2 separate regions of the Homo sapiens genome follow, and region 1 is linked to region 2. A link means that fine-mapping ties the variant in region 2 to the expression of a gene that starts in the linked region. Tissue or cell type: whole blood. Region 2 holds a variant in brackets; the other region holds the start of a gene. All regions are shown on one strand. Distances are between the middles of the regions.

Region 1 (8,108 bases), 98 kb before region 2:
TCACAAACCCAGAGCATCAAAGCAGTGGAGGCCAAGGCAGGCCCTGTGGGTTTTCCGGGGCAAGCAGTAAGGACAAGGTTTCAAAGGTTTCCTTGTTGTGTGTTTCTTATCTAGCAGGGCCCAGGGGATATGCTGAACTGTAACAGGGCTTGACTTCTGCCATGGACACAGCCCAGTGCCTTTCTGTTCACTTTACCTGTAGCTCCTCTTCTGCTGAGTTCTTGCAGCAACATCATCAACAAACATGGACTAAAACGTCCACTGAGTGCCGGGACTGAAGGCCCAGGTAGTGTGGTTCCTGCCTTCAAGGAGGGGATTGTCCACAGGTGGTTACTGGACTCTGCAACCCCGGGCTCCCCAGAATTTTGAAGCGAGCACACAGTCTATGCTAGAGCTTCACTTCATCCCCAGCCACCAGAAGTCCTTGTCCCTGGCTGTGGCTTGGCTTGCTTTCTCACCATATAGTCCCACATTTTCACCTAGTAAATCTCTTCGTTTATGGCATAAATTAAACTGCTTATGTTAACCCTAGCAGTGTTCATGCTAGATCCACTTTCATGCCACATATGTGGGATTGAATCATCTTTAATAATAAAATAATTTACATAGTGTTCCTCAAGGCTGGCAATTACTGTCATCTTCAACTGTGAGATACAGGGTGATATGAAATTATTTCCTTGCCAGAGGCCAAAAGTCATAACAAAAATCAGATTTAACAACTTCTCTGCCCCTCCTCCCCATTGGTGGGGGTGTGGTATTTAGTATAAGGTCAAAAAGACCTGAGTTCAAACCCTGCTTCTGCTATTTAGCTGTGTGACCTTGGCCACGTTACTAAACCTTTCTGAGCCTGTGTTCTCATCTGGAAAAGAAGAGCAATATAATAGTCTGCCTTATCCTCCACGGATATGTTCCAAGACCCCCAGTGGGTGCCTGAACCTTGGACAGTACTGAACCCCATATATACTATGTTGTTTTTTATACATACATACCTGTTATAAAGTTTAATTTGTAAAGTAGGCACAGTAAGAGATTAACAATAGAATAATTATAACAATGTAATAAAAATTACATGAATATGGTCTCTTTCTTTCTTAAAATGCCCCATATTCACCTATTTTCAGACCATGGTTGACTATGGGTAACTGAAACCCTGGAAAAGAAAACCACGGGTAATTGGGGACCACTGTACTATCTCTCTCAAAGAATAGTTATGAATATTACATGACAGAACCAGTATTAAGTACCTAGGAAAAAAACAAAAGCAACATTGAAAACCTCAACCTTTTATTGTGGCTACTCTGGGCCAGGCACTGTTCTGAGTACATAATCTTTTTTAACTCCTTTAATCCTCAGGGAAATAATATTATCTCCATTTTACAAAGGATAAACTGAGGTAAAGGTGAGGTAACTTGCCCAAAGTCACACAGGTGTTAAGTGCCAGAACTAGGACATGTGCCCAGGCAGCCTGACTCGGAGGCTTCAGAAGTTCAGTTTTTTTTCCCATCCCCTTAACCCAAAGAGCTGCTGACTTTCACATAGGATTAGCCACTCATGCCTGCACATATTGTGTTGTTAAACTGCACACGCATGTTTAGGTTTTGCTTACTGCACAACTTTGGGTAAGTTATATAACTGGTCTATCCTCAGTCTCTACACCAGCAAAATGGGGATACAACGGTTCTTTCATTAGATGATTGCTAGAAACAAGTAAGATAATCAAGACAAAAGGCTGAGAAGAGTGCTTGACACATAGGACGGGCTCCACTTAGGAAGTGCTTTTAACATCCAAAGTAATGAACAATGCAATATATTAGGAAAATTCTTGGTCTTCTATGGCTTGGTGAGGCACACAAGATTTTGTGGCTGGCTGAATCCAGTATTTTCAAATGGCTATCCTTGTTCTCTGGCAAACATACTGCATTTAAAAATAGATTTCTCATTCAATCAATGAAAAGAAATACAGGTTCACAGGATTCTGGTTAGTAAGAAATGAGACTGGGCCTAGATAAAATCTGACTGAAAGCAAGAATCTGAATAACAATAATAATAATAATAATACGATCAGAGCAGTCTTCTTGGAGGTTTTTAGGTTACGAATTATATTCCACCCACTGGATAAATGTTACAGTTAATGGTCAAAGAATTTGTGAAAAATCTATGGCCTGGCTAAAAAAAAAAAAAAAAAAAAATCTTTGGGTGATACAGGTGAAAGCAATTTTATCCCCAACACTGTTGAATACCAGGAACTTTATACATGAAAAAAGCACAGCTTTTGTGAGCATGTTGGACATAAAACAAAACACCACATTAAAGGAAAGGCTGGAGCGCAGACAGGGCAAATGAACTCATGTGAGCCCTTCTGCAATCACTGTTACGGCTTTGTATTTATTCATCTTGCACCGCACTTAAATGTGCAATAAAAAGCAAAAAGTGTGCAACACTTATTACTCTAGCTGCTTTTACTTGTTCCATAGAGATACGTGAAACAATTTCACTGCTCAGATTGAGGGAAAGAGGAGCTCATCTCATTTCAAGCCTGTAGCTGCTGCCACAGCCTCAGCACCATGTTCTAATCATAGAATTCATCATGTAAATCTCTAGCAGATGATGCCATTGGAAAACAGAAACTGCCATGGATCCAGAAATGCTTCCAAATTTCTCCTCTAAAGTTCTTATCTGTGAGCCCAGAGGCTGGTGCTGTTTTATTCAAATGGGTGAGGCCCATTGGGAAACCCGCATTCTTTGGGAGACTTTATGAAGAATTTCAACCATTCCTTGACTATAGAAAGGGCCTTTATCATTTATTTCACATATGAAAATGCTAAATATTTCACAACTACTCCAACTTATTTCTGAGTGTCTAAATCTATTCTGAAAAGGGTATGCATCACACACATACCTGTGTAGCTTATTAACTACCAATAAGAGCTCACACAAATTGCAGGGGGTATGAAAGAGTAGACTTCTGGAACTGTCCAGAAAAGAAGAGAAGGTACATTTCCTGGTTTTAAGATGAAAGAGCTTGTGTAAATTAGAACATTACAGGAGCCTTTTAAATTGTCTTAGGGATACCTTTGGGGCATCATCGCTGGTTCCTGGTGAGTCTTTTTTCTCCCTGTGATGTTAACAGGAAGTCCCTAAAACTGGCTTTGCTATTAAAATACAGACATCTGCTGCTCTCCTAATTTTTGTTCCTTTTAAAAGGCAGTACTCCCAAGAAACTCTTGGATATTGTGAGAATTAAGAGCTGGGAGATGGGGATGGAATCTTTGTCTCCCTAACACATTCATCAGTTCCCTCCCTAGAGCCCCCCTACAACCTCAGCACACAGCAGCAGCCCACTCCTCCAAATACGCCAGGGCTGGAAAGATTCATGTTGCAATACCCTCCTGACATTCCTCATTTTAATTCGCTCACTTTTTTTTTTTTTTTTTTTAAACAAAATGTAATTACTTGACTGTCAGCCTAGGCTGCACTCTGGGGCTTTTACTCCTTTCAACACAGCTGCGCTCCCGGCTTTGATGCTGCTGTCCACGCAGCTTGTCCCAGCCACAGCCTGGCTCTCAGTAATGTAACATTCAAGTGCATATTTATTTTTAAACTGACCTCTCCTAGACTGCACAGTATAAAGGAGATCCTGCCCAAAAATATGCTACTTTCTATTTATAAGATGAAACACATGCCTCCCAAAGTCGAGAGAGGGATAGAGTATAATAATTCATAACGAAAAAATGGCCAGATCCATTCATCCTCACATGTCTGATACTTGTCTGTGTCAAGCCACTTAGTTTCAAGGAGAAAGGGAAGAAAACAAAAAACAAAAAACCTTGTAAACGTCTCAGCTGTTCACCGTCAAAAAACAAAAAAGTCAATATCCAGATCTGCAGGTTGGCGCCCCACTAACAATGTCCTCCATTAAGAAAGAGGAGGGCACCGGGCAGGCGATGCCACGGCAGAGCTGTGCGATGCACCCATGTGCGGCCCTGGTACCAATCCATGATGCGAGGGGCGCGGTAGCCAAGCGCGGCTTGTTCTCAGATGGAAAAATGCTATACGCGCCCAGAATGGCTCTGCCAATAGCTCGGAGGGTGCAATGTGGCCGCGCAGCCCCACCCTGAAAAGTAGTGGGCACAAATGGTGGAGCTCTGAGTCCTGGTCGTGCCGCCGGACCCCCTCCTGGCTTGCTTTATGTCCCCTTCGTTCCGTTGGACACTAGATGGGAAAGCGATGCCCTGGGTATCCCGACTCCCTGCTGGTTTCCCAGCCTAACACCAGCGCACGCCGGAAGCGGCCACGGCCGCGGGCGGGACAGACTCACAGACAGGTAGAGAGGAAGGAGCCCTGGGCTGCCCCGACTCACCGGCCGCCGCTGAGGATCCCAGCCGCTGCCCCGGGCCTCCCGCGGGCGCACGCAATCCCTGCCGCTGTGCGCAGATCCAGCCGAGTCTGCCGGCGTGGTGCCTGCTCACCGCATTATCCGCTCCGAGACGGCGTGAAGGCGCCCCAGGCCGGTGGCCGGGTCTCCGGGCTAGCCCCGCGCTGCGGTCCCCCGGCCGCGAGAGAAGGTGCGCGCGACTGAGCGCGGGGCGGCCGGACGCGAGGACTGAACCTGCGGAGGGCGGGGCGGCGCGGGGCGGGGCCGGCGGCGCGGGGACTCACTGGGGCGGGGCGGAGGGCGCGGGCAGCGGGGCCGACCCTCCCAGCCGCGGTACCTGTGCCCTGGCCCGGGGCCAACCGGTGGCCGGGCGCGCGCGCGGGGGGGGGTCACCGTTGGACCCTCGGAGGACAATGGGCGCCCATTGTTACCTCCCCAGCGCCACCCCCCAGTAGGCGACTTCTCTCGGAGAAGATGCCGCTTTCGACTCCCTAAGCACAAAGAAAGGTCGCCGGACGCTCGGTTTAAAGAGGGACCCGGAGGTGCTGCCGCCCGGGTGCACGGGGACAATAGGACTCCGCCCGCACCCCGGACTCCCGCACTAAAACTCGTGCGCCCACCTCTCCCGATCCCAACAGGCCGACCTAGCTGTGCGAGTGGCGGGCGGTGACCCGCAGGGAAGCGAGGCCACCTGAGTGCGCCGCCCCGGCCAGGCCGCAGCTCCCCAGGTCCCTCTCAGCCCGGGCTCCGGTGGGCGCGGAGGGGGAGGGTCGCGTTCTGTCAGTTTCTAGCTCGCTCCCCTCAGAGCTGCAGCCAAAACCCGGAGAGTGGAATAAGCGCCCTGAAGATGCCGGAGCTCCCGGCTGAGCAACTGGACACGCGACGAACAGCAGACGCTACAGGTTCTCCTACCCAGAGGGAGGCGTTTCTTCTCCCTCAGGGTCTTTCAAAAGGATTTGCCTAAAGCTGGGGCAAGCCGGTGGCGGCTGCCCCAGACGCGCGACGAGGCGCAAGTGGCGCAGCTGCCGGCCCGAGAGAGTAAAATTCAGGCCGCGGTGGCACCTGCGCCCGCCGGTCACCCGGCCACCGCCAGCGCCGCCGCCCGGCGCGCCCCTCCCCTCCGCCGGGGCCGGAGCGTGAACCGGGTTAATGAATGCTAATTTTCTTAATCGGCCTCCGTCTCTTCCTCCTCCGCGAGTCGTCGGCCTGGGGAAGGAGTAGGCGACAGGAAAGGGCGGTGTTTTCCGGCTGGGAGGTCCCAGCCCGCATGGTCAGCCAGGGGAGGGGGCTGGGACCCCTGGGAGTCGGACGCTGGGGGCCTGGCCTCTGCCCTGAGACTCTCGGGTTGGATGGAAATCCTGGCACAACGCGGAGAACCTCCCGGATACCTTGGCTTTGCCGAGAGATATCAGCTTCAGGTCATCACCGCGGTGCCCTGGGTCTGTCTGAAACCTTAGAGGGTGCGCCTTAAGCCGATGTTGTAAACCCAGGCTGACTTTAAGGTGAAGTGAAAAGGAAACGCACACAATCTGGAAAGCAAAATACTTGGGTGGGGTGTTAAAAGCCTCAAAGAAAAATAGTAGTTGGCAGGTCAAATGGCCATGAGGTTGGAAGTCAAATACGAAACTCGGCTGAAGTGATGTTAGAAGTTTGACAAGCAAAAACAGTCCGTGAAGATAAGAGACCCAGCATTGTTTCCCTTCTTCAAAAGACAACTCGTCCAAAGTTTCCTTTGGCAGATACCTGGATTCTACTCCAGATTCCTGAGCATTTTACTTGGGTTTCATATTTCAAAATATATGTTCCATTTGGCACTAATGTATATATTTTATATATTAATTTATTGAAAAATATTAAATGTTCCTGGCCTACTTAGAAAAAGGTATTTTTATAAATATTTATGCATAGTTTTCATTACATAGGGTATTTTATAAGTCCAAATAATATGTGTATATATATAAAATACCACATGCAAAATTCCTTTTGAACACATAAAGACATTCCCGACACACATGTCTTGTATGTAATTTTTTTCACGTGATCTATTGTTAGCTGCTGTTAAAAGCACTTTATTTCTACATGGCCAAATAAATAACTTCTTTTACAGTTTTTGCAAATATAGAGTGGCAGTTTGTCTGAAACGGCATTTTTATTCTAAAACCTATTTTTACTTTTCTACATTATCCCTTGCCTTTTAGAGGCTTTCTCTCCCTCTGCCGTTTTTAAATGAGACTTCACTGCTGGACTCTAAACAGTTATCCAGGACCTGCTCATTCAAGGGCCTGGTGGTTTGATTTATCTTGGCTCCTTTGGCCTCGCCTCCCCACCCCTCCCCTGCCCTCCCCTCCCCACCCCTCCGCTTCCCTCCCCTCCCCTTCCCTTCCTTTCCTTTTTTTTTTTTTTCCCCCAGGGTCTCAAACTCCTGGCCTCAAGTGATCCTTCTGCCTCAGCCTCCGAAAGTGCTGGGATTACAGGCATGAGCCACCATGCCCTGTGCCTCACGTTATTTCTTTGTACTGAACATCTTCAGTGAGTAACTGATCCCTCATATAGTGAATTATTCTTCCAAATGAGTGCATTTCCTGTGCTAACTATGATAGCTTGTAGAGTTGATGGATTTAGGTTTCAACATGTTATGGGAGTCTACTACCGGAAGAGAGGAAAAAGCTTTGCTTCAGGAAGATTTTAGGAGTTTTGAGATTCTGCTGTGAATTTTGGAAAGGTTTAGCCTTAAAAACATTTGGTGGTAACCTTAGAAGCCTGGTATCTGTAGACCACCTGTCAGGCCCAACAGTGGGCTGTTTTTCTATTAGTCCCTACTTGGGAGAAAAGCCAAGTAGTATTGTCAGTGCCCTTGCTGTCCAGAAACCTGTGATCTACCTAAGTGCAGAGAGCACCTTGCCAGTGTACACAAGCAAATGCTGACCACATTCTAGTCTCTTGCTACCAAGTATGGTCCCAGGACCAGCAGCACCAAGCCTCACTCCAGGGCTACCAAGTTGGAATCTTCAGTCTAATGAAATGTGGATAGTTTGCGTGCAGATTTAATGTTTGAGAAGCACCGTCCATGAGTGCTTGGTGGTTCTCCACCTTTCAAAGCTACAAACTCATTTGAAAATCTCATGGGATTTATGAGCACCCTTGGAAAAGCATATTGATTGATACACAAAATTTTTCATATGCAGTTTCAGAGTTCCTGTAAATAATCTATTGATGCCAGGGAAGTCCTAGGTTAAGACCCCCTAGTCACAAAGAAGATTGACTCAGTGTCAGCTGGAGGAGTTAAGAGAAGATTCTCACAGGGGGCAGAGCTTAAATTAAACCTGGGGAATTTGATAGGAAGAGGAGTAAAGAAGAGCATTTCAAGCTGTTGAAATGCAAAGGTCCTGAGAGGGAAAAAGAGAATGTCCTTTTTTGTATGTGTTCATGTGAAACTTAATGAGGAGATTGTTGTTTGACAGCAGGCTTTCCTTGCAATTCCTTATCATCACTTGAACGTCCAGAAAATGAAGCCAGACTGTGGACTCAGTAGTCATTCCACTTTGGGTGTGCAAGAACCCTATGACATGGGGGTTTCACATAAGATCTCATTTCCTACTACTTTGCTCACCTCTCACTCTGCCCCAGCCACATTGGCCTTCAGGCTGTTCCAGGCACTCCCGACAACAGAGCCTGGCCCACTCTTGTCTGTGTGGGGATTCTTCCCCAAATCAGCAAAAGGCTCATTAAGATC
Region 2 (8,108 bases):
TGAGTGAAGGGTGAGAGGGAACTCTCTATACTATTTTGGCAACTGAGTCTAAAATTATTTCAAAATATAGTTGAAAAGAAGGGATAAGACTGTACTTAATTGTATAAATAAAAAGTCCCACTTTGATCTATCTTACTTTTGAAATGGAAAACCTATCATTCTTTGTTAAAGAAAGGGGGAACAGTTAAAAGATAGCCAGTAACTAATGCACATAGTAAATAAAAATTGCTATTAAGTATAAGCTGACTTCGATTCATAGTTTTAGAGTTTCAGGATATTCTGGGAAAGAAATTTGCTGATGTAAATGTATAATGTCAGCAATATACTATCACTGCTGTTATTAATATTTTGATAATGTTTGGTCTGTCAAGGACCAAAGCAATTCTGTATTCTATACAAGCAGCTTGTATACATTTTATACTTCTAAAGTAATTATTAATATATTTTCAGTTTAATTTAAAGATTGTTATTTACTTTGACCAGAGGAATAATTTAGGAATCAGAACAGTAGTTTACATCTCCAAGTTAGCAAAATGTGACAGATACATAATCTGTATTGGAAGTGATTTAAGCCTGGTATTTGTGATTCATCAAAGGAAAGCCCATTTGGTCTAGGTTGAAATAGTTTCCTTAGATGAGGAGTACTCTCCTTTTTATCAGTTATAGTATTCTTCACATCCATTTTGGTTCCAGGACTAAATGACATCCACGCCACACCGTGTATCAAAACACTCTATAACACATTTTTAAAAACCTCTAATACATTCTGATTGTTTTATAAAAGAGCTATCTTTTAAAAGAGCAGACCAAGTTCATGACAGAGAAGTTCTCTGGTGCATTCTGAAGCAAATAGAAAGAAAACAACAAAAATCTTAGAAAACTCGTAACTGACAAAATCAACTGCATTTGTTTTAGTTTGGAAACAGCACCAGCACCAGTTTCTTTCTTCTAAAAGAGTAAGAATTCACAGCAAGAATATTATTTTTGTTTACAAGAATTGTGTCTGAACCCTCTAAAATACGACTGTCAAGTCAAATGTCAAGAATGTTAATTAGTGAAAGGAAGGGGAGGAGTTGACGGGAGGCAGGCCGTCAGCACCAGCTCACTCTGTAAACAGAGCTGTGTCTTGAATTCCACAGCAATGGCATGGAGGCATTCTTTGAAAAGAGGAGATAATAGATGATGAAGTATCTAGCAAAAAAGATATGAAAAGCTTCTGTCCAAACACTGTTTATCAAACAAATATACTCTGATTGTAAACTGCCTAAAACTTGAGTTTCAGTTTGTTTAGCTCACCAGCATGTGAGTGTGTATATTCACTATTTGAGTTTTATTTCAGTTCTTCTCATTGAGGTCATTCCTTGTTTGAATTAGCTCATGCCCTCTGTTCAGAGGATCTCTTCAAAGTAGATTACAAGATTCAGAGATATTTTTTAAGTCCATTGATAAGTTCTCCAATTCTAAATATTCCACTGTTTAACCATCGGCCCATTAGCCCAGGCACAAAACAGGGAAGAAAGATACACCCGCATTAAAAACCAACAGGTTTTTTATTTCCTCAATGCTCCTGTGTCTTACCCTATTTAGAAATCATATGGCATATGCAAATAGATGTGGATAGGTTTGACAATTAAGTTATTATTTTATTTTTCTTTTAGACCTAGAGTTTAACCAAAACCATCGCTTCCATGCAACATCGCCCCAAATTCAACAGAGTGGGACTTGGCAGACAAGTTTTAATTATAGACCTTGCATCTATCTTGTGTCCATCAATATCATGGTTAACTTGGAAGTTAAAGAGGCATTTTGCAACATCACAGGTCTCTTCTCAACTCATTTAAAATTAATCCCAGTTAAAATAAAAAACACAAATCAAACAGGGCATTTTTCATATTCATTTTGTAGGTGCACTGTCAGAATTATAAATCAGCTTTGCCTAAGGAGTAAAATGAAACACACCCAAATGTAGTATTTTTAGGAAAAAATGTCTGGAAATGAGTGCATATGTTACTATGAATTTTTGTTAAAGATAAGCAAAACTCTAATATGCTAAAATTTATTGACTGGACAAAAATCTCCTCCACAGATGCAATTATTCACATACTCATTGGTCAAATATTTAGTGCATGCCTTGAGGATACACCACAAATCAACCCCTTCTCTGCTCCTCTTCCCCAGTCTCCAAAATCTACCTCCTACCTCCAACCCCACACTCACATGGAATTGCAAATAGCTTGATTGGATAAGCATGGACATCAGAGAAAACTCTCTGATACATTTTTGACACTTGCTAATAAAAGTATGTTGGGTGTTTTTCTTTCTACCTAAGGATGTTCCACCCATCATGGAGGGAAAATGGGGCTAAGAGAAGCCTGCCTCAGCTGGTGGGGTCATATCCACTCACAGATGTTAAGGAGTCTCCATGACAATGAGGACTTGAGGTGGGGAAGAAGAGACCCAGATATCTGCTTTGCCTTCTGTTCAAAAGCCAAGTGTCTGATTTTTCAAGTCTAGGGCTTTAAAACAAAAATCTCATTTGCAACATGCAGTCAGCAGCGGGGTGCCAAGCTCAGGACCTACCCCAAGGGGCTAGCAGCACTGTAGCCTCTGAGACCACCGTGCCACCTGGCTGTGCATTCAGATGTCATCCCTCCCCTCAGCAGGGCCAGGCTGACCACCAGACCGGCTGTAGAACCAGTTATTTGTACACCATGTTTGAAATGGACCTCAGAAATGGTACATTTGGTGAAAGTCAGGGTGTTCATAGAATTTATTATCCAAACTGGACATTTTTGAAAGAGAGAACTATTAATAATCATGCCAGGTCAACAGGCATGAGTGGAGCATGCCCCACAAAGACTTGGACACATGGCCATACCTGTATTTTTCTGTTTAGCAATTTGCAATTACTGCACACTTGAAGCATGTGTAGCTTCCCTGAGGCTCCACCTCTAGGGTTATACTGCCTGGAAATGTATTTTGGGGAAAAACAAACTTGTTGAAGAAAATGTCCTCACAAATGTGTAGCAATAACTCTAGGGGAAGTCACATTCCCACTTGTCTTGCCCATTGTGGTTAGAGGAGATTCTAGAATTAGAAAAGAAACCAAAAAATGAAAGATCTGCTCTAAGGGCTTAATTTTGCCCTTCAGGAAACAA[A/T]CATACAGAGTGGCCCGTGGGTTCTTTAAAAATGTTCCCCATCAATCTTCCACCTCCTGTTCCTTCAACTGCCTCTATCTTATTTCACTTTTTGAAAAAAGTTGTTTTATCTCTGGCCTAGAAACTTTGGTACAGTTTGTCAATATCAGGAAGTCCATTAAGTAAGATTGCATATTATCCTTGCCAGAGCACGGCTGGCTGTCCAGCAGACATCATTTTATGTTTTTGTCTTTCTTTATTTGAAATACCTTTGATGTATCATCTCAGACAAAAAATGTAGTTGTTCAACAGCTCAGGGAAGAAAGCCTGAGCTTGCCACAGGAGGAGACAGGGCTAAGGCTGGGGAGTTGGGGGGAGTGTAAATAAAGTAGAGGACTGGGCAGAGCTACAAGAAATATTTAGCATTCCTGGCTTCCCACAAAGGGTAGGTCAAGGAGAGGGAATGAGCAGTTGGGATGGAGCGTACACCACAACTATTCTTTTTCGGTCCTAATCCAGTCCACTGTGACACATAAATGTCCCCAGTGGGCAGACCCCGAGTTTATTGTGTTGTGTGGCAAATGCTGAGTAATTACACACGATGCCTGTCTATATGCAGGATGGGGTCAAACTCTGTGGCAAAGACACAGCTGCTGGTTTCATGGCTGTGTGACAAATCCACTTTTGCTAACAATCGTCAAAGCCATATTCATAACACTATGTGTTTAAGGGATTGAGCACTAAAAGTCCGCTTCCACAGGCCCCTGTCAAAACAAAGTCCACTTCTTTACAGTGTGCCCACAGGCTGTCTGTGTCAAAAACCTGGTGTCACTTTTTGGAGTGGGATCTTGGAAGAGGAGCCATGCTCACTGTTGTTTGCCTGGATAGTGAATTGAAGATGGGGCTCTCTTTTCTTGAAACTCTCGGCGGGGTGGGGGGGGAAAGAAACGCGCCTTAGCATCCAAAATAAAGACAACCACACATACACCAAAACAGAAACAGCCATTTTGTTTTTAAAAGATCTGGTCATTGACAGGCTTTCTTTCTGCCCCGCCACTATGGTCTTCTCGGGTTAATTCATCTCCTGCTGCTGCAGGATCTATAAAATACTGTATTGAGATGACTTCAGTAGGTTTCCAACAGTGGGATTTTCCAGCTACTGGAAATACCCAAGGCCAGTGTAAACTCATTTGTTTTTCTTAATTTGAGCCTTAATTGCAGAGCCTACTTTTTGCTGGATGCTAATCCTCTCAAGCACTTCTGAGGCAAACACTCTAGGAGAGGATGTGGACAGAAGTACCCACGGAAAAGGGGACACTGTGACAAAGGGGTCAGCAGGTGAACAAATGTCACATATACCTCCTCTGTGTCATGCGGATGAGCAGGTTCCAGGTGATGAAAGTGAGAAGGTGCCTCCCATTGCAGGGCCCTAGCAACATAATGCTGTTCAGAATGCTCTTAATACAGAAGTGCCTATATTAGTCAGTGTTCTCCAGAGAAAAGGAACTACTGGGAGAGAGAGAGATTAGAAGGAATTGGCTCACACAATTATGGAGGCTGGCAAAGCCCAAGATTTGTAGGGTGAGTTGACAAGCTGGAGACCCAGGAGAGCCAATGGTGTAGTTACAGTATGAAGGCGGGCAGGCTTGAGGTACAGGTACACTTCAAGTCCAAAGGCAGCAAACAACTAATTTTTCCTTCTAGTTCAAAGGTCATCAGGCAGAATAGTTTCTATCATGTTTAGAGGAGGGTCAGCCTTTTTGCTCTATTTGGACCTTCATCTGATTGGATGGGGTCCACCTACATATGGTGGGCAATCTGCTTTCCTCAGTCTACTGATTCAAATGTTAAATATCATCCAAAAATATCCTCACATAAACATCCAGTATAATGTTTGACAAAATATTTGGGCACCATGTGACCCAGGCAAGTAGACACATAAAAAATAATCATGGCAGCACCTGGCCATGAAATGATAAAACCGAGCTTCAAATCTAGCTCTGTCTGACTCCAAAACCCATATCCTTTCTACCACTGTAGTGACCGATTTTGTTCTCAGGAAACTTAATTGTTCTTAAGGAGGTAAGATTTATAAACATTAAAAACTCTGCTTAAGAAAGGTATGTGAGGCCAGGTGCGGTGGCTCACATCTGTAATCCCAGCACTTTGGGAGGCCGAGATGGGCAGATCACCTGAGGTCAGGAGTTTGAAACCCTCCTGGCCAACATGGAGAAACCCCATCTCTACTAAAAATACAAAAACAAGCCGGGCGTCGTGGCAGAGGCCTGTAATCCCAGCTACTCGGGAGGCTAAGGCAGGAGAATCACTTGAACCCGGGAGGTGGAGGTTGCAGTGAGCCAAGATCATGCCATTGCACTCCAGCCTGGGTGACAAGAGCGAGACTTCATCTCAAAAAAAAAAAAAAAAAAAAAGGTATGTGACATAATGTGTTACATTATGATAAATGATCAATCATATTAATCAGATAATTGACCCATCAGCTGTAAAGTGTGAACCATGTTTACACCCAAGTTTTATTCCCAGTGGTGTAAATGTCCTTTTTTCACTATTTCTTGAGTAGGATACCAAGTGTAACACACACTGGAGTGTCTTTCAACTCCACAAGGAAGCTGGAACTCAGAGGGGTCTGGACCTTCCAGGCAAGTCCCTGGCTCTGCTCAGGAAGTCTAGCCATCTGCTGATGCCATGTGATATGGTTTGGCTGTGTCCCCACCCAAATATCATCTTGAATTGACCTGGTAGCAAGTAATTGAATCATGGGGGCGGGCTTTTCCCATGCTATTCTCGTGAAAGTGAATAAGTCTCATGAGATCTGATGGTTTTATAAGGGGCAGTTCCCTCCACATGCTCTGTTGCCTGCTGTCTTGTAAGATGTGCCTTTGCTCCTCCTTCACCTTCCACCATGATTGTGAGGCCTCCCCAGCCACGTGGAACTGTAAGTCTGTTAAACCTCTTTCCTTTATAAATTACCTAGTCTCAGGTATGTCTTTATTAGCAGCATGAGAAAGGACTCATCATGCTACATGGTGACAGCAGTGATGGAGACAGTGCCCAGGATTGCCTCCCCATGACAGCTAGCAAGGGCTGTGATGCTTTACAATTACTGTCAGCCCAGAATTAACTTCCATTCCGTAGACATTCATGGGTGCCTGCTATAATACATAAAAAGCACAATATGGAAACAGGCTGGGGCCAAAGGGAGACAAAGACCCAGTCTCTGCCTTCCGAGTGCTTGCAATAGAAGGGGATAAGAAACACAGCTGTGTAAGAGAGATGCCAGATGATAGATACATGCAGTATACTCTGGCAGTTCCCAAGGGGAGAGATATCACTGCACCCTATGGGGAGCTGAGCAGAGGAGACATTTGACGTAGGCTTGGGAGTATGTGTAGGAGTCCAGCAGATGGGGTAGGGAAGGAAAAACAGGAGCAAATGCACAAAAGAGGAGAAGCAGAGGATTTTTCTAAACAGCAATGACTCATGCAGTTTGTCTGAATTGTAGAATATACGAGAGGGAGTAGCAGGAATGAGACCTATTTTCTGGGCTTGCACTTCACCCTAAACTCCAGTCATCTGTAAGATTCATCTCTTTTGGCTCATCCTCCTGAGCAGGAGCAGACAACCCCAGGCAACAGGCAGCACTTGCCCAGCAGTCAGGCTGCTGAACTGCTCTCCAGTGTGTGTGCATGTGAGGACCCATGAAACAGGGGCCACAGTGTCCTCCCCACCCAGGAACTCAGCCTGGTTTATGAGAACAAACCTCGTTGGCCTGGGCAGCTGGTCTGATCCACTTCCTGAACTCCTGCTCTCTCTGTCCTACCCCACCACCCAGGCCAGCCTCTCTGTCCTGAAGCTGAGACCTTCTGAACAGAAGGCTGGGTCAGCTCTGCTTGCAGCCAGAGGACACTGAGAAGGCCACCACTTACAGGGGCCCTTCTCCTCTCAGGTCCCCAGTGCTCCTAGGGTGGGCAGCCAGCACTGCTTTCCATCTGATTCCAAGCAATGGCTAAGGCTGGTGGCTACCTATCCATTAAGCTGTAAGATGTTTGCCCTTGGGATGTGGTTTAAGTGTCAGTCTGAGGTTTAAAATAAAACAAAACAAATTCTGTTTCACTGCATCTTTAATTGTCGACTTCTGGGGAAGTATCTTCTAAAGATGTGCTAGGCACAATCACCCGTGGGCCAAACTCCATGAACAGAAGTGGGCATGTTAGAATCCTGCGTCAGCTCTTCCCTCATCTCACTGCCTGGGAAAGTGTCTGGTTATAACCCCAGCCCCAACTTCTCAGCTCTGACGCCTGCTGTTCATCAAAACTGACTGGAGGGTTGCTAGAAATGCAGAGGCTGGGGTCCACCCCAGACCTGATGAATCCTAATCCTCAGGCTGAGAACATAGGCCTATGGGCTTTTATTTTTTATATATCTCCCCAGGTGATTATTATACACAGCCAGGGTAGAAAACCCCTGCCTTAGGCAAATGCCTTATAGATTTTTTTTTGCATTCATATTCTCTATTCATTGCCTCCTAGAATTTCAAGCATTAGGAAAGATCTTGGAGATCAACTAGTCTAGCACTTTCTAAACTCATGGTAGTGAGAACCAGCGTAGGAGCTGGGGATATAGTGGGCAGTCCTTCCCAGGCTTATGTGACTCAGAACGATCTGCACTTAGAGTAGAGATTGGCATCCCACTGCTGGAGGGACACAGGTGGGAAGTACTGGCCTAGCTCACCCCTGTATGATGATACAGACTCTGGACCTTCTGCTTCATTCCCCTCTGCCTGTACTGCTTCTGCCTGACCCTACACCCCCAGCTTGGGGTGGAGATGACACCTGCAAACACATGAGACACTGGTGGGAAAACCATGTTCTAGAAGTGTGTGAAATGATGCAGGCAGTGGCCCAGGTGACTTGGCTTTTTTCTCAGTATTGCTTTGAGACCATGCCATCA

The links. PIP is the estimated chance that this variant, and not a neighbour inherited with it, causes the effect.
Region 1: it holds the start of CDC42EP3, and the variant in region 2 is fine-mapped to the expression of CDC42EP3 in whole blood (TOPMed, PIP above 0.99).

The regions. Positions count from the first base shown.
Region 1 is chr2:37,667,066-37,675,173 of GRCh38, forward strand. It overlaps CDC42EP3 (CDC42 effector protein 3), which reads right to left and starts at 4,577. Exons shown (of 2, transcript NM_006449.5): 1 at 4,361-4,577. RefSeq lists silencers at 4,366-4,855, 5,026-5,085, 5,096-5,165, 5,386-5,555.
Region 2 is chr2:37,765,121-37,773,228 of GRCh38, forward strand. All of the region lies in intron 2 of LOC107985869 (a long non-coding RNA gene), which reads left to right. Among named protein-coding and RNA genes, the nearest start is that of CDC42EP3, 98 kb to the left of the region's middle. The variant A/T (reference allele first, on the strand shown) is at 3,159.